Linked DNA regions of Homo sapiens. The protein of the gene in region 1 binds, or shares a complex with, the protein of each later gene. Each region holds a gene or a part of one and is shown in the gene's direction. Other genes may lie near its edges.

Region 1 (6,959 bases):
GATCTTTATTATTTGGGGGTTGTCAACTAATATTGTTTTATTTTATTTTATTTTATTTTATTTTATTTTATTTTATTTTATTTTATTTTATTTTATTTTATTTTATTTTATTTTATTTTTTGAGATAGAGTTTCGCTTTTGTCACCCATGCTGGAGTGCAATGGCACAATCTCAGCTCACTGCAACCTCCGCCTCTCTGGTTCAAGCGATTTTCCTGCCTCAGCCTCCTGAGTAGTTGGGATTACAGGTGCCCGCCACCATATCCAACTAATTTTTGTATTTTTAGTAGAGATGGGTTTTCACCATGTTGGCCAGGCTGATCTGGAACTCCTGACCTCAGGTGATCTGCCCATCTCAGCCTCCCAAAGTGTTGAGATTACAGGCATGAGCCACCACGCCCAGCTATATTATTTTTTAGGGCCAGACAAACAAAAGTAGGAAGGGAAACTTGATGAGACAGACAGGTCAGTGAAATATTACAAACCAACTATATTTTAATTTCTGGATTATTTATTTTTCTGGATTACTCACAACTTCCATAGCAGCACAAGTAAGAGGATAATTTCACAATTTTCATTTGGTTCTATTTCCTTTGTAACTTTCCATAATGTATCATGTAGCTCTTCACCCAGGAAATGTTTCATAAGTGGTACGGACAGGCATCCCTTGGACAAGTTCCCTTTTTGGAATTCTAGGTAGTCTAAGTTACCGTGAGTGACTTCATGTCTTATTCATTTGACAAACAATATTGGTGCCTACTATGTGGTAGGTGCCATGCTAGGTATTAGAAATATCAAAATAAAACAATATTGGTGCCTACTATGTGGTAGGTGCTATGCTAGAGATTAGAAATAGCAAAATAGAAAGGACACAATTCTTACCATCAAGGAGCTCATAGTTTAGTGGTAAGAAATCCATGTGAAACATTCAAAATGCAGTGTGGTAAGTGATATCATCAAAGTATGCTCAGGGTGCAATGAAAGCACAAAGGAAGTCTGGTTGGAGTGAGTTGTGGGGCCATACCAGACAGAACATGTGAATTGATTCTTGAAGAATTTATCAGGTTTCTAAGGTAGGGGCAATCTTGACAAAGAAACTAGTTTGTTCAAAGGCACGGTGGTGTGAGAAGTGTCAGCAAATTTAGTAGTGTGCAAGCATGACTTCCTTGTAAAATGGTGGAAGATAATGTTGGAGAGACAGACTAGAGGGCATGTTAAGGAGCTTATATCTTGTCTCCCGTAGTACCTGGGATCAAAGAGGTAAGGTGAATGAGTGACAAGGACAGTAATGAAGGATAGAAGAAAGAGGTGGTGATGGCTGTGGAACTTGATTGTTCATGCTTATTTCAAGGAGACAGTTCTAGCTGAGTGTAGCCACATGGGAATGTGAATCCAGAGTTATAGGGTCTTCTGGTTTTTTAACAGAAAAGCAGGAAATCTGGATTTTTTAAAAATGTGAAATCTCCAGAGTTCCAATAGCTGACAATTGCTTTTTTTTTTTTTTAATTCAAAGGTTTAGTTGATACTGCACCGAACACAACACATCTGTTTGCTGGATGTGGCCTGCAGGCTGTCATTGAGACCTGTGCTTTAGGGGACAGGATACGTATGGAAGCATAGAAGCTAACTGAAACAAAACTTTAAAACACTTAAAAAATAACCACATACATTCCTCTCTGGATTGCCCCATTCCAACATTTCTACTGCATATGATGACACATGTTCTTTCTCTGGGGAAGCAAAGAGAGGTCCCAGGTCAAATGCAACCCTCAGGGCTTCTGAGGGCAATGGTGTAATCCAGAGTCTCAGTCAAGCCTGGTAGAACATGGTAAGGTGAGACCAGTGTGGCCCCTGAGCATCACCATCACCACCAGGAGATGGCTGTCATTTGTTTCCTTTTCATTTTAGAGGAAGAAAGGGCAGCCTGTTTAAACTGTGTATGCAAGAAAGTCAACATGGCCAGTGACAACACAGACAAAACACAGTGTAAAGGCTGTTAAAGTTCAAACTCCTCATTTTACTGCCGGAGAAACTAAGGCCCTGAAAAAGCACAGTGACTTGCTCAGAGGGACCCAGCAACCTAGTGGCAGGATGAAGTCTCCTGACTCCTGGTCTAGCATTCTTTCCAATAATCCCGGGCTGTGATAATTAAAGTAAATCAGCCTGGCAGTTTTCCTAGCATCTAGAATTCCTGGACTGGACAAGCAGGACTTGAGAGCAGCTGTTAAACACCTTTTTTCCCCTTAGCTCTAGGATGATGATATTCTTTGTGAACTTTATATTTCATGGGTAGGGGTTAAAGAGACGACACAAAGATGTTTTTGAAGCACTGAGACCATTCACAAAGTGTACAGAGAAAAGTTGTCTGTGGCTAATATATTTAAGGCTTATGACCTCTGTGCTCTCTGGACTGACCTGCCAGCAGATGCTTTTGGTTTTGTGTTTTATTTCTCTTATTTTGTCTTCTTTTCTATTTCTATCTATGTTTTTCTTCTCTTCCACCAGCCTAGGTCTTAGGCCTACACATAAGTGCCCCCGGCATTGCTGAGCCTCCATGATGACACTCAAGATGCCTGCTGCAAGTCAATAAAATTGTTAATTATTCATTACTCAATAACACGGAATGAGAGTGCGTAGTGACTATGAAGCATACATGGTTCCCCTGCTATGGTCATTTCGCTTTCTATAATCTCAGACTAGTAACTCTTGTCAATTGTGACTCTTGATTTAATCCTTTCCATCCTTCATTTCAGGGTCTATTGTTCTGCCTTTTGCCACTTTTTTTTTTTTATCTGAACCCGTTTCTGATTGGTGCAGCTGTTGAAGATGCTGCAGTTGCAGCAGTGTACATCTGGAACATTTGGCTGACTTGTTGAACTTCCCCCAGGGAGTACTCCAGGAGAAGGATGGGAGGGGTGGAGAGGCCAGAACAGTTGCCTGTAAATAAAGATGCCAGTAGTGTCTGGCCATTCTGTGGACCACACTTGTACAAATCCACTTCATTCTGGCCCTCGGTTTCCCTGTCTACTCACTGAAGACATACGTTCTCCAATCAAAACTGCTGCAGTGGAAGAAATCTATTCTGGCTGTGGATGCTCTCATACAGCATTTTTTGCATTGTACAGGGATCGATAGATATTTGTTGAATTAATTAATATATCAAGAAATCCTAGGAGACTGTTTTACCCTTCAAGGGACAACATCATTTCAGTTCCGCTTGGCATGGGGCGGCTTCTCTGTTACTTAGATTGAGCCTTCAGAGTCACTCCAGGAGTGAGGCTGCTTGAGTCCCACCCATTCCCATAGTTCCCAGGCTCCTGGGTCTCCTTTTCTTCGGGCGAGCCATTGAATTGCAAACACAGCAGGCATGGTTTCATTCCAAACCCAGAGCTGTTTTAATTAGTTTAACGTCTGTTAAACGCTTTGAAGATTGGAAGCAACAGATAAGTACTGGATGATGTTATTAACAACTGCAGTTAATTGCAAACATTTCTATTAATGCTAGTTTCTGCCTCCTTTTCTTTGCTCTACTTTCTTTCCAAGGTTCCCAAATTCTTAGCCTCCCCCTCCTTTCCTCCCCGTACTGGCGCTATAGGGTTAAACTGGGGCGGAGCCCAGGGATGAACGACAGCGCCAGTCACCAACTGGTACGGGGCAAGCGGGAAGAGCTGGGTGGGGCGGCCAGGCAGAGGCGAACCCTCACGCCCCCAGGCCCCGCCCCGCGGCTGGAGGCCCGGCTGGAACGGCACGGGGCGGGGCGCCAAGGCTTGGCGGCCCCGTGGTTGGGCGTCCCGGCAGCCGCTTGAGGGATGGGGCGGGGTCGGCCGGGACCTCCTCCTTCATTCCCTCGGCGGGCCGAGCCTCCCCTCTCTCCCGCCCCTCCTCCTCCCTTTCCCACCCCTCGGAGTAGAGCTGCACATGCGGCTGCTCCCTGCTCCGTCCCGCCCAGCCACTGTCGCGCAGGAACGGGTCCCTGCAGCCCCCAGCCGATGGCAGGACAGTAGCCGCCTGTCAGAGGTCGTGAACGGCTGAGGCAGACGCAGCGGCTCCCGGGCCTCAAGAGAGTGGGTGTCTCCGGAGGCCATGGGCTACCCGGAGGTGGAGCGCAGGGAACTCCTGCCTGCAGCAGCGCCGCGGGAGCGAGGGAGCCAGGGCTGCGGGTGTGGCGGGGCCCCTGCCCGGGCGGGCGAAGGGAACAGCTGCCTGCTCTTCCTGGGTTTCTTTGGCCTCTCGCTGGCCCTCCACCTGCTGACGTTGTGCTGCTACCTAGAGTTGCGCTCGGAGTTGCGGCGGGAACGTGGAGCCGAGTCCCGCCTTGGCGGCTCGGGCACCCCTGGCACCTCTGGCACCCTAAGCAGCCTCGGTGGCCTCGACCCTGACAGCCCCATCACCAGTCACCTTGGGCAGCCGTCACCTAAGCAGCAGCCATTGGAACCGGGAGAAGCCGCACTCCACTCTGACTCCCAGGACGGGCACCAGGTGAGTCACCTAGTAGGGGCGGCGGCGGCCCCCTCCCCTCGCGGGTAGGGCGAGGGCCCTCCGCCACAGGGGCCTGGGAGCACTCAGCAACCTCGAGCCAATTTAGAGGGCAGGACCAGGGAGGGACCAGGCGAGCAAGGGAGAAGTTGCCCAGGGCAGGTTGTCTTCGGTCCCTGGCCCAGCTAATCCAGACTCCCTGGGGACCCCTTGACTTGGAAAGTCTCGCGCGCGCCCGCGGCCCCTGGCTGCGGGCTGCCTCGAGAAAAGTTGGCGACGCTCCCGTCGAGGAGGTGCCTGCGCTGCCCCCCGGCCGACTAACGGCTTGGCCCTTCTGCTCGTGATGAGGTTCTCTGCCCGCGGTGCTTGTTTTTTCGTGTCTAGAGCTGATGCCAGAACCAGCAGGCTCCCCTTTGGAGTTGGAGCTGTAAACAGCTGTAATAACTGTTCCACGCCCGCCCGTTGAAACAACTTTTAACCGCATTTTCAGCGCGGGTCCTTGTGCGCTGACCAGAACGTGGGCTTGTTCACACTTACCTGCAATTTGAGACTGATTGTCCTCGGCGTTCTAGTGAGGATCAGCGCCCCTGAGGAATTCTGGTAGAAATATGCCGTCTTGCTAGACAACTTCTGAACAGCAATTTTAAAAATCTATGGAAATAAAACTCACCCTTTGCATGCCGGTTCTGATTCTTAAGCGGGGTAGGTGTGCGGTGGGAAGGGTGGGTGGGAAGCGCTTTTACTACTGTTAGCTTGAGAACGGGAATCTGCCAATGGAATAATTACTCAGGACTCGTCCCCCAAGAGCAGTTTTGTTTGTTTTTGCAATCTTTATGGTGTTTGTGCCCTAATAAGCAAACTATTAGCTTTGGTGTTTGTTTTCTATTCTATTCTTTCTAGCTTTTTATTCAAGTAAATTTCGTTCACTTAACGTAAATACTGTCTTGGTTGCCATATGTGAAACTTAGGAGAAGCATCCAAGGATCCTTTCGAGGTGGCTAAAGAATAATAATAAAATTGTACCTCTTAGGGAAGAGAGCAAGTTGTACAAATAAGTTCCTTGAGGTGAGGGACCCAAGCCTTCTATATTTACTGCCACATCCAGAGTCATTGTCACAACTCTGTAAACATTATTTGTGCCACTTTGACCTCCCATCTAAAGTGGTACGCTTGATAGAGACATCATATTCATGATAATAGTGTAATGTTAGGACTGATACTTAAAAAAAAAAAAAAAGATGTGCATTGTAAAGTTGCCCTGAGCCTTAAAATGTCTTACTAGCACACTCCAATTTATATAACAGCTTATCAAAGAAGAGAATCAGCAGACATGCTTCTCATACTTGAAACTTTAAACATTGTAGCTAAACGATAATTAACTAGGATTCTGACTCCTTTATTTATCTACTGCCACTCCCCCCACACCCCAATGCCCAGCAGAAGTATTTAGCAGCTGAACATTGATATTCTGTGAAAAGATGAAAGAATTAAACTTCTTTAATCAAATGTTGGCCAATACTTTTTGGCATTCAGGATGGACAGAGCCATTTTTATAGACTGAGGATTAGCAGAACAGCTGTACTGTAAGGTTTCTGTGATGGCATGAAACTCTTACAGGTGTATAATGGCATTTAGTTACCTACCCTTTGTGTGGCACTAAAATAGTTCTGTCTAGATTTAAACACAGCTTCCTATCTTCTGTCTTTTATTCTTTCTGTTTTAATATTTTTGAGCAATAGAAGCAAGGATACTAGCTCTTTACATTTGTTGACATCAATTGGAATCAGTTTCCTAGAGTTATGAAGGGCTTATATGAGTCCATTTCGTTTGATTCCCTTGGGAAACATAGGCCCTAAAGGGAAAGTGACTTGCCCAAGGTCACATAACTAGAGTCAAAACTGGGATGATAGTTGCTCTAACTCCTAGTTGGGTGCCCATTCCCCCAACTACCTCCTGGGACCTTTTGCGAGGGAGCAAGATGGAGCTCCACATTAGAACTTTTGCAAAGTAGAGGGCTCAGCTCTGCATCATTTTGTTCTACTCTGCCTGTATTTTGACCACAGTAAGTTTAACCGTGTGTTCCTTATTCTTCCTGAACTTCACTTTCAGATTTGGAGTATACTTTGAAGGAATTTTAGCCCAAATTCAACTTGTTTATTTTAAGTTGTTCAACTTAAGTTTATCTTATCTTGTATATTAGTTTTAGTATACAAAAATAACTTTTTAAAAAAGTTGATTGGGTATTAAATTAATACTGCTACAAGCTTGGTTAAAATTTCTAGTGCCCTGGTGCACCCTCTGCTGGCTTTACAGTGACATTTAATTTTCAGTATCTGCTGACACTCAGAATTCTACATTGTGCTGACAGATTCTGATTCAGTAAATAAGGAAGTAAACAGCCTTGTGGGATTTGGCCACGTAGGTCATATTTTTATATTTTAGTTTTTAAACACAAACAACTGCTGTTACAGCAAATCTTGGATG
Region 2 (7,673 bases), on another chromosome or scaffold:
CTCGGACTTCCCAGCCTCCAGAACTGGGAGAAACAAATGTCTGTTGTTGAGGCCTCCCAGCCTACAATATTTTTGTTATAGCAGCCCAAGCTAAGGCAGGTAGCCAAAGGAAAGCCAGGCTTTTGTTTAATCAGTAGCAGGGGGTCAGTGTTCAAAGTTTAGTTAAATAACTAAATGCAGAATCTCATTCTCCAATAGGGTACAATCAACGCAAAGCCCAGCTCTTTCCTCTGCCTTTGACCTGGAGCTGTCCCATCTGAATTTATGCTGGGGGAGGACAGATCACCCAAGCTTGACAATGGTTCACATAGCATTTCATCTCCCGGTATCTAGGTGACACCCTAAAGGCCCTCCCTCTGTGCAAATACTCCCCCAGACTTAGTCTCTCCCTTTCCTCATTTTGCTAAGGATAGTGGCCCATTTTACTTCTAAAACAAGTTTCCATCATTTTCAAATCATGATATACTTGGAATAGAATCCATACCCTTTTGTCCAGCCCCCACGTGGAATGTGGTCTCTACCACCCTTCCTGGGCTGGGCTCAGCTGCCTCCCAGGCCAGCTCCCTGCTTTGTGGCCACAGTTTCCTGTCAGTTTCCTCAGCACACCTGGCTCTGGGCCCCACAGGACCTTTGTACAAGACCTTTGGTCCATCTGAAACACCTTCTGCCCAACTCTGCAGGACTGCCTTCTTCCTTCGCAAGTCTTGGTCAACTTTCCTTCTCAACAACCAAAGCACCGCCCCTCACACCCCCTTACCCCCACATCAGCTTGCTGGTGTCCGCCGTATCACCCAATTCCATTCTCATATTTTAGGCACATTTGCAAGCCTAGGAAGGTGTGGTTCCTAAGAGAGACTTTAAATCACAAATATTTATATTCCTGTTTTTTCTGCCTATGGAACTGTGACCACATGAGTAGCGGGTGCTCTGAGATGATACTTTAAAAACTAGCTGGCCAGTGCTGAGGAGGGCAGAGCCCTGTGAGGTTACCACTGACAGAGCTGGGGACAAACGCATTTTAGGAAAGCAAAGAAGCCAGGCCAGGTCAGTCCTGGGAGCCACTGTGCCACGAGGCAGGGGCAACGTTCTTCCAGAAAACAGTCCCAGTTGTGGGACAAATTTGAAGCTGCAAACTCTACACTATAGACAGAACTGTGATCATTTTATTCTGAATAACTTAGTGGGTGTCACCATGAGCATAAAAACATTTCATCAAATATACACACACTGTGTTAGGATTTGAGCAATGTCATTTCCTGGAAGGTTTTCTGAGATAGACTTCACCTGCAGGTAACCAGAAGTTTACTTGCTGTGGTGAGTTGTTAGGTGAAACCAATTATATGTCAGGGCCCAGCTGCCAGACAGGAGCATCTTGCTTTTGGAGTGTTTGATTCCCCTGCCACTTTTTGAGACAGTAATTAGTAGCAGGAAACTGTCACCAGCCAACTGATAATCCCCTCACATACAAACACAAATAATCCAGGCATCCTGTGCACCCTTGCTTATCACGGCCAAGAAGTACTTTTCATCTCCATTTCATAACTTGATTACTCTATGCCTCCCCAAACAGAGCATAAGCTTCTTGAGGCCAGCGATTTTGACTGTTGTTCTCATTGTGATCTACCCAGCAACTGGAACAGTACCGGCACGTAGAAGACGTGACGTGCATTTGCTGCATGAATAAACACATGAACATGATGGCATAGGAGAATGCTACTTTGATGGGGTACATGGGTATCAAGGATTTTCTTTCTGCTCACACAACATGAGATTTGTAATTAAGACACAGATTTAAGGTGAGTCCGGTGGCTCACACCTGTAGTCCCAGCACTTTGGGAGGCTGAGGCAGGAGGATCACTTGAAGTCAGGAGTTCGAGACCAGCCTGGCCAACATGGTGAAACTCTGTCTCTACTAAAAATACAAAAATTAGATGGGAGCAGTGGCACATGTCTGTAATCCCAGCTCCTCGGGAGGCTGAGAATCGCTTAAACCTGGGAGGCAGAGGTTCCAGTGGGCCAAGATCACGCTACTGCACTCCAGTCTGGGCGAGAGAGCAAGACTCTGTCTCACCAAAAAAATAAAAGACACAAATTTAAAATCACGATGACCAGAATATGGCTCTGTTTCACTCACTGGAAATTATCTGATCTGCAAGATAATTCTTACCAACCCCTGAGTGTTTTTTACAGGGATGGGAGTCCATTGACTCTCTAAAATCACTTGCGAAGTTTTGTTGCTGCGGAGCTGAGAGCTGGGGCCAGCCTGCCTGTTGTGCCCCTCCATAAGACTCCTGGCCATGCATTTGAGCACACCTCATGAAGGGGGCAGGTGGCTGGCCGGGCTGTTATGTGTAGCAAGCATGTGTTCTAAATTACAATTCATTTGTTCTAAATTACATTCATCATTTCTAAATTTGTTCTAAATTTAGAACACAGCCCCAGGAGACCCCCTTCACCCAACCATGTTCTGCAGTCTTGATTCATTTTCTTACTTAAAAAATGCTATTGATAACCTGTTGCTATTTCTGCCTCAGTCTCTTAGGAAATGTATAAAACAGAAAATCACATATCTTCAAAGCTCTGGAGCTTTACATGATGAAGATAAGCAATGATTTCTCATTTCATTCTTTCTCTTAATCAACTGAATTAATTATATACTCATTTTCATTTGGATATGATGACTAGGCAGACTTCAAGTATAACCATCCATAACCTTGCTTAATGCCATGATGTTTGGATTTTTTTCAAAGAGAGGAAAAAACTCCCTTGGCTTCTATTACAGCATCCATATTTTGTGCCATTTTAATTTTTTCTTGTGTCTTTTTTCTCTCTCTTTGGGAAATATCAGTATCATTCCTTTTGGTAAATTTTAAATCACCACTTAATTTCCAATAGAAAAAATGTTTTAGTTACACCTAAAATAATCCCAAACCTCAAACACACTGTGAGCACACCAGAAAGTAAAAATTATATGGAGTAGAACAGATTAGCCCAGAATACCTCCCATTCATTTTCCCAGGTTCCTAATTTAATAATTTCAGTGACTTTAATTTATCACAGACCCTCAGTCTGAACTCGGCATGAGCAGGGTAGACAACCAAACCTGAAAATTCAAGTTAAAATTCTTGTTTGGGAGCTTATATTATCTAGATTAATCATCCACAAGGATCAAGTCAGCTAAGTAACTCTGGTTCAGCTTAATCTCTGTGGAGGCAGAATTAGTCCTTTACAGTCTAGGTCCTTGCCCCAGCCCCATACATTTCTGTCTGCTTTTTTCTTTTCTTTTCTTTTCTGTTTTGAGACAGATTCTCGCTCTGTTGCCCAGGCTGGAGTGCAGTGGCACAATCTCGGCTCACTGCAACTTCCATCTCCTGGGTTCGAACAATTCTCCTGCTTTAGCCTCCACACATGCCACCACCGGCTAATTTTTGTATATTTTTTTTTTTTTTTTTTTTTGAGACGGAGTCTCGCTCTGTCACCCAGGCCGGACTGCGGACTGCAGTGGCGCAATCTCGGCTCACTGCAAGCTCCGCTTCCCGGGTTCACGCCATTCTCCTGCCTCAGCCTCCCGAGTAGCTGGGACTACAGGCGCCCGCCACCACGCCCGGCTAATTTTTTGTATTTTTAGTAGAGACGGGGTTTCACCTTGTTAGCCAGGATGGTCTCGATCTCCTGACCTCATGATCCACCCGCCTCGGCCTCCCAAAGTGCTGGGATTACAGGCGTGAGCCACCGCGCCCGGCCTAATTTTTGTATTTTTAGTAGGGACGGAGTTTCACCATGTTGGCCAGGCTGATCCCAAACTCCTGACCTCAAGTGATCTGCCCGCCTCAGCCTCCAAAGTGCTGGGGTTACAGGTGTGAGCCACGGAGCCCAGACTGTTTCTTTCTTAAGCTCTTACTTTCTCATGTGTGAGTTACCTTGTAGGTTTCCAAGGCAGAGGGGACAAGATGGAAAAGGAGAACACAGAAATCTAGCCTGGAGGAGCTGCTCTGTTCCTGTATTTATCTGTGTAGGTGTGAATGAGGGAGAAAATGACAAGAGAATGACATTATTTTAAGGCTGTTTTCCCCCCCCCAATCATTTACTTTTTGAGAAATAATTGCCCAATACTGAAAGGTATGTCCTTTCAAAATGTTGATGTTTCAAATGGCTTCCTAATTACCTAGTTATACGGGGGGTGTGTATGGTTATCTGAAGTTACATGGGTATACACTGGTGGTGTGAGGTGTCCAGAGAGAGGAAAGGAAGAGCAGTCCTGGTGGCTCAAACCCTGAGGGATGTGCGGGGGATGGGTGAGAATGTGAACAGACATGTTGGAAGCTGAATCCGTGCAGTGGCACCCATGCCTGTAGCCATCTCAGTGGGGGGTCCTTCTACGAACAAGCTTTGATTAATGATATTTTAATGCTAGTTTAGCTTTTTAGCACTCCCACGCCTAAAGGCTCTGATAGAAGCAAGGCCCCCACCCCTGCAAAAAAAAAAATCCATGATTTTTACGCATTCCAACAGATCTCTTAAGGGGCAGACGGCCGGAGAGCCAGGTGTGCCAGGGACCTATGGCAGCAGGGCTGAACGTGCCCGCTCCAGCCTCTCCAGTGCTGGGAGAGACCTCTAGATGGTGCAGGTGAGTTTGCAATGAGGGAAAGCCCCTCGGCAAGGACTGAGTTTCCAAACTTGCAGACAGGGCAGGGAGCGGTCAAGGAAGAGTTCCCGGGAAGCCCTTTAAACGGAAAGGAAGCGGGGCTAGTGTCAGAGAGGTGTGCCAGGTCCCAGGCAGCCCTGCTGGCCCCTAAGGACATAGAGTACCTGCTTCTGAGAGGGCTGCCACGGTGGCCACCTGTGAAGCCTGTCACCCAGAACTGGATGGTACCTGACTTTCTTCATAGACCCATCTTCTGCTGGGACTGAAGCTGACCTCCAACAGAAGCCAGGTAAGCCCTGGTCCTTTCCTCTGGTTTTCTAAACTCTTCAGCTGTGGCCGAGACGGAGGTGTCATGGGCTGGGAGAGAGGCTGGGTGCATTTTTGAAATGCATGTCATTTTTGGGTTGCGTTTGAACAAGCTTTACCGATTGCAGTATGTCTGCGCTACCAGTTCTAAGACCTGAGATTGTTCCTTTGTTTTAGAAAAACATCAGAAACCCTGTTTTGCTGTTGGTTGCACATTTGGTTAGGGAGACAAATTCTGTGTGTGCTTCACAGGCTTTAAGATTTGGGCTACTGAAGCAACGGGTTCCTCCAGGGAGCGTGAAAAGTATGTTTCTCAGGTTTGCCCCTGTGCCCGGCTCACTGGGGAAGGCAGGCGCGGCAGGGACTCTAGCTGGGCTCTGTACCTGCCTCCAACTCTGCGTACCCGCTGTGACCTAAGAGACCTTCCAAGTGGGGTTTCCAGTCGTGTCTGAGACCCCCCATATCCTGGCCTCTGTGTTGGTGGCGGGGGAGCGGGGAGAGGGAGAGAAGGAGGGGAGTGGGTACCTATTTGTGATGATTGAGGTTTTCATTTCCAGCCAAGAGGTTCCTCTCAACACTCTGACAGACCGTGGGGTGGGTTGGGCTCCTAGACAGGAGTCGGCTCTGATTCAGTCGGCTCTGATTCCCAGCCTCCTGCAGCAGCCAAGCTTTGAGATGTCAGCTCAGGGAGAAGCGGGTGGCTGGGCAGGGAGGTCAGCAGGCGAGGTTCCCACTGGGTTTCCCTGCCCATGTTGTGCTGGGTCAGCAACAAGAGGGACAGTTAAAATCAACAAGCAGGGCAGATGCCGGTCAGTGGGCAATCCCACACAGCCAGGGGTACACGCATGTGAGGAGACGTACGGAGAGACAGGAGCACCACCGTCCTCTTCCCCAGTCCCCAGGCCACTGCTCTGTGGCTCTCAAGTGGCATTTTTGAGACACTTTCTAAGCAAGAGTGAAAGTGTAACAAAGAAGTGAAGAGCCATAATAGACTGAAGGAAAAAAGGGATCCAGGCATCTAAAATAGAGAATGTTTCTTGCCTGGCTTAATACTCTGAGATTTGTAAGTCATAGCCACTTAAAACCTTTAAAGATACATTTTGACAGAGGCCACCAAAAAGAGAGTGACTCTGGTCAAGGCTTGGAAATAAGCGTTCGTTCCGATGACAGTCCACGTGTACCCTTCACGGCTGGGAAAGTTTGGCGATCCTGGTGGCGATTGGCCGGGGGTCTCCACTGTACCCCTCCCCATCCCTAAGTGGGCCAGGCTGTGCTGTGGGAGGATTAATTTGTGACAGCACAGTTGGAGGATAATCTTGGAAGGACCAGTCTTTGGGAGGAAAAAGTAAATACACTTTCCCTGAAATGCTTGATTTTCACTCCCTGGCCACTACCTGGTTTCTTGCTTTTGTGAGCTGGACTTTCATTTTGTTGGGCATACACATTTGTGAAGCACAGACATGTCAGGGGCTCATCTTTGTTTCTCAGGCATCATGGTACCCTCTTGCCTAGCCCAGTGCCTGCCATTGGGCGGCAGCCCAACATTGCTCCGGAGTGCAGACAGACCTGGTCTTACCCCATCTCACGGAGCGCAAAACCTACTTGCCTCTGTTAAATGGGGAGCCTCTTCTAGTCAAAGTTCCTCAGGTCTCATAGGCCCACAGATGGAAGCTGGGTTACCTGACGCTCCTTTCTGGGTCCAAGTGAGTGCGTTTTGTGGTTTCCAAAGAATAGAATTTATTCTCAAGGAAATGCCCAGGAACCCAGCTTCAAAGACTCAAGCAAATCTGAAATTCAAATACAGGAGCTGTAAACAGGATGGTGTTTGGCAGACAGCCTTGCTGCTTAAGTGGCTCAGCCCCTCAGCTGGGCTCAGTTTCCCCTCACCCTCCTCCTAGCCTGCCTAGTGACTGCCTGCATGCCTCAATTATCCTGGATGACACCTGCCTGCTCGTTCCTTTGATGCTGTTTGAGGCTCTGCCTAGGTATTCCACCCACCAATAGTATCATTAATTAACTTACATTAAGCCCACTTAGCACATTAGATCAATTAGGGGACAAAAGCCCCAGCCAGCCTTTCCTGTGAGTATGCCGCCTCCATCTCAATGCCTACGATTCTGTCCTTACTGAATTCGTATATTGCAGGAAGGAATTTTTTTTAAGTCCCAAAGATTACTATTTTCCTAAAAAATAAAGCAAGGAAACATAAGCTGATGTCTAATCATTTAACCTCTGCTGTACATTTCTATGGCACTTTACAAAGCGTTGTCATGAATGTCTTCTCTATTTTCCCAATAAGGAAATTGAGGCTCAGAGAGGTTCACTGTCTTGCCCGAAGTCCCACAGCTCATAATGATTATGGGAACACCAAGAACTGGTCTAGGTTAGCACTCAGTATGCCCAGGCCTCGTGTGGAGCCTGTCACTCATAATTGGAGGGGCTGAGACTAGAACCTGTGTCCTCTGCCTCCAACACTGACACATTTGCCCCCACAAGGAGATGGTGCAATGACAGCCACCAGGGATTATAAAAATAAGAGTGGAGTAAGCAAACACTCCCCCTCCTGTATCTTAGTTTCCCAGGGTCGTGTCAGCCCCAGACACACTCATCTCCTGTCCTCAGAGGCGAGGGATCAAGAGGAAACAGTCTCAGTTTTGTTCTTTGTGAACCCTCCTGATAAAAGTTAGAGTGTTTGTAGTTTTTATATAGTGAAAAAAACTGT

What was found. The genes of interacting proteins can lie anywhere in the genome.
Region 2: the proteins of EDA (region 1) and EDAR are in contact, whole or in part, in a crystal structure (PDB 7X9G), measured with the Homo sapiens proteins. Residues at the interface, in NP_001390.1 of Homo sapiens: Gln256, Ser258, Ala259, Gln261, Asp265, Asp273, Arg289, Tyr310, Tyr311, Lys340, Thr341, Tyr343, Ser370; in NP_071731.1 of Homo sapiens: Glu55, Pro56, Tyr57, Leu58, Lys78, Ile86, Arg88, Arg89, His90, Asp92, Glu94, Gly95, Phe97, Val134.

The regions. Positions count from the first base shown.
Region 1 is NC_000023.11:69,612,227-69,619,185, forward strand, and holds the start of EDA (ectodysplasin-A), read left to right. Parts: upstream 1-3,886; 5' UTR 3,887-4,082; coding exon 4,083-4,478; intron 4,479-4,859; coding exon of another isoform or gene 4,860-4,865; exon of another isoform or gene 4,866-6,959. UniProt on the Homo sapiens protein: Cytokine which is involved in epithelial-mesenchymal signaling during morphogenesis of ectodermal organs. Functions as a ligand activating the DEATH-domain containing receptors EDAR and EDA2R. May also play a role in cell adhesion.
Region 2 is NC_000002.12:108,986,221-108,993,893, reverse strand, and holds the start of EDAR (tumor necrosis factor receptor superfamily member EDAR precursor), read left to right. Parts: upstream 1-4,673; 5' UTR 4,674-4,934; intron 4,935-7,673. UniProt on the Homo sapiens protein: Receptor for EDA isoform A1, but not for EDA isoform A2. Mediates the activation of NF-kappa-B and JNK. May promote caspase-independent cell death.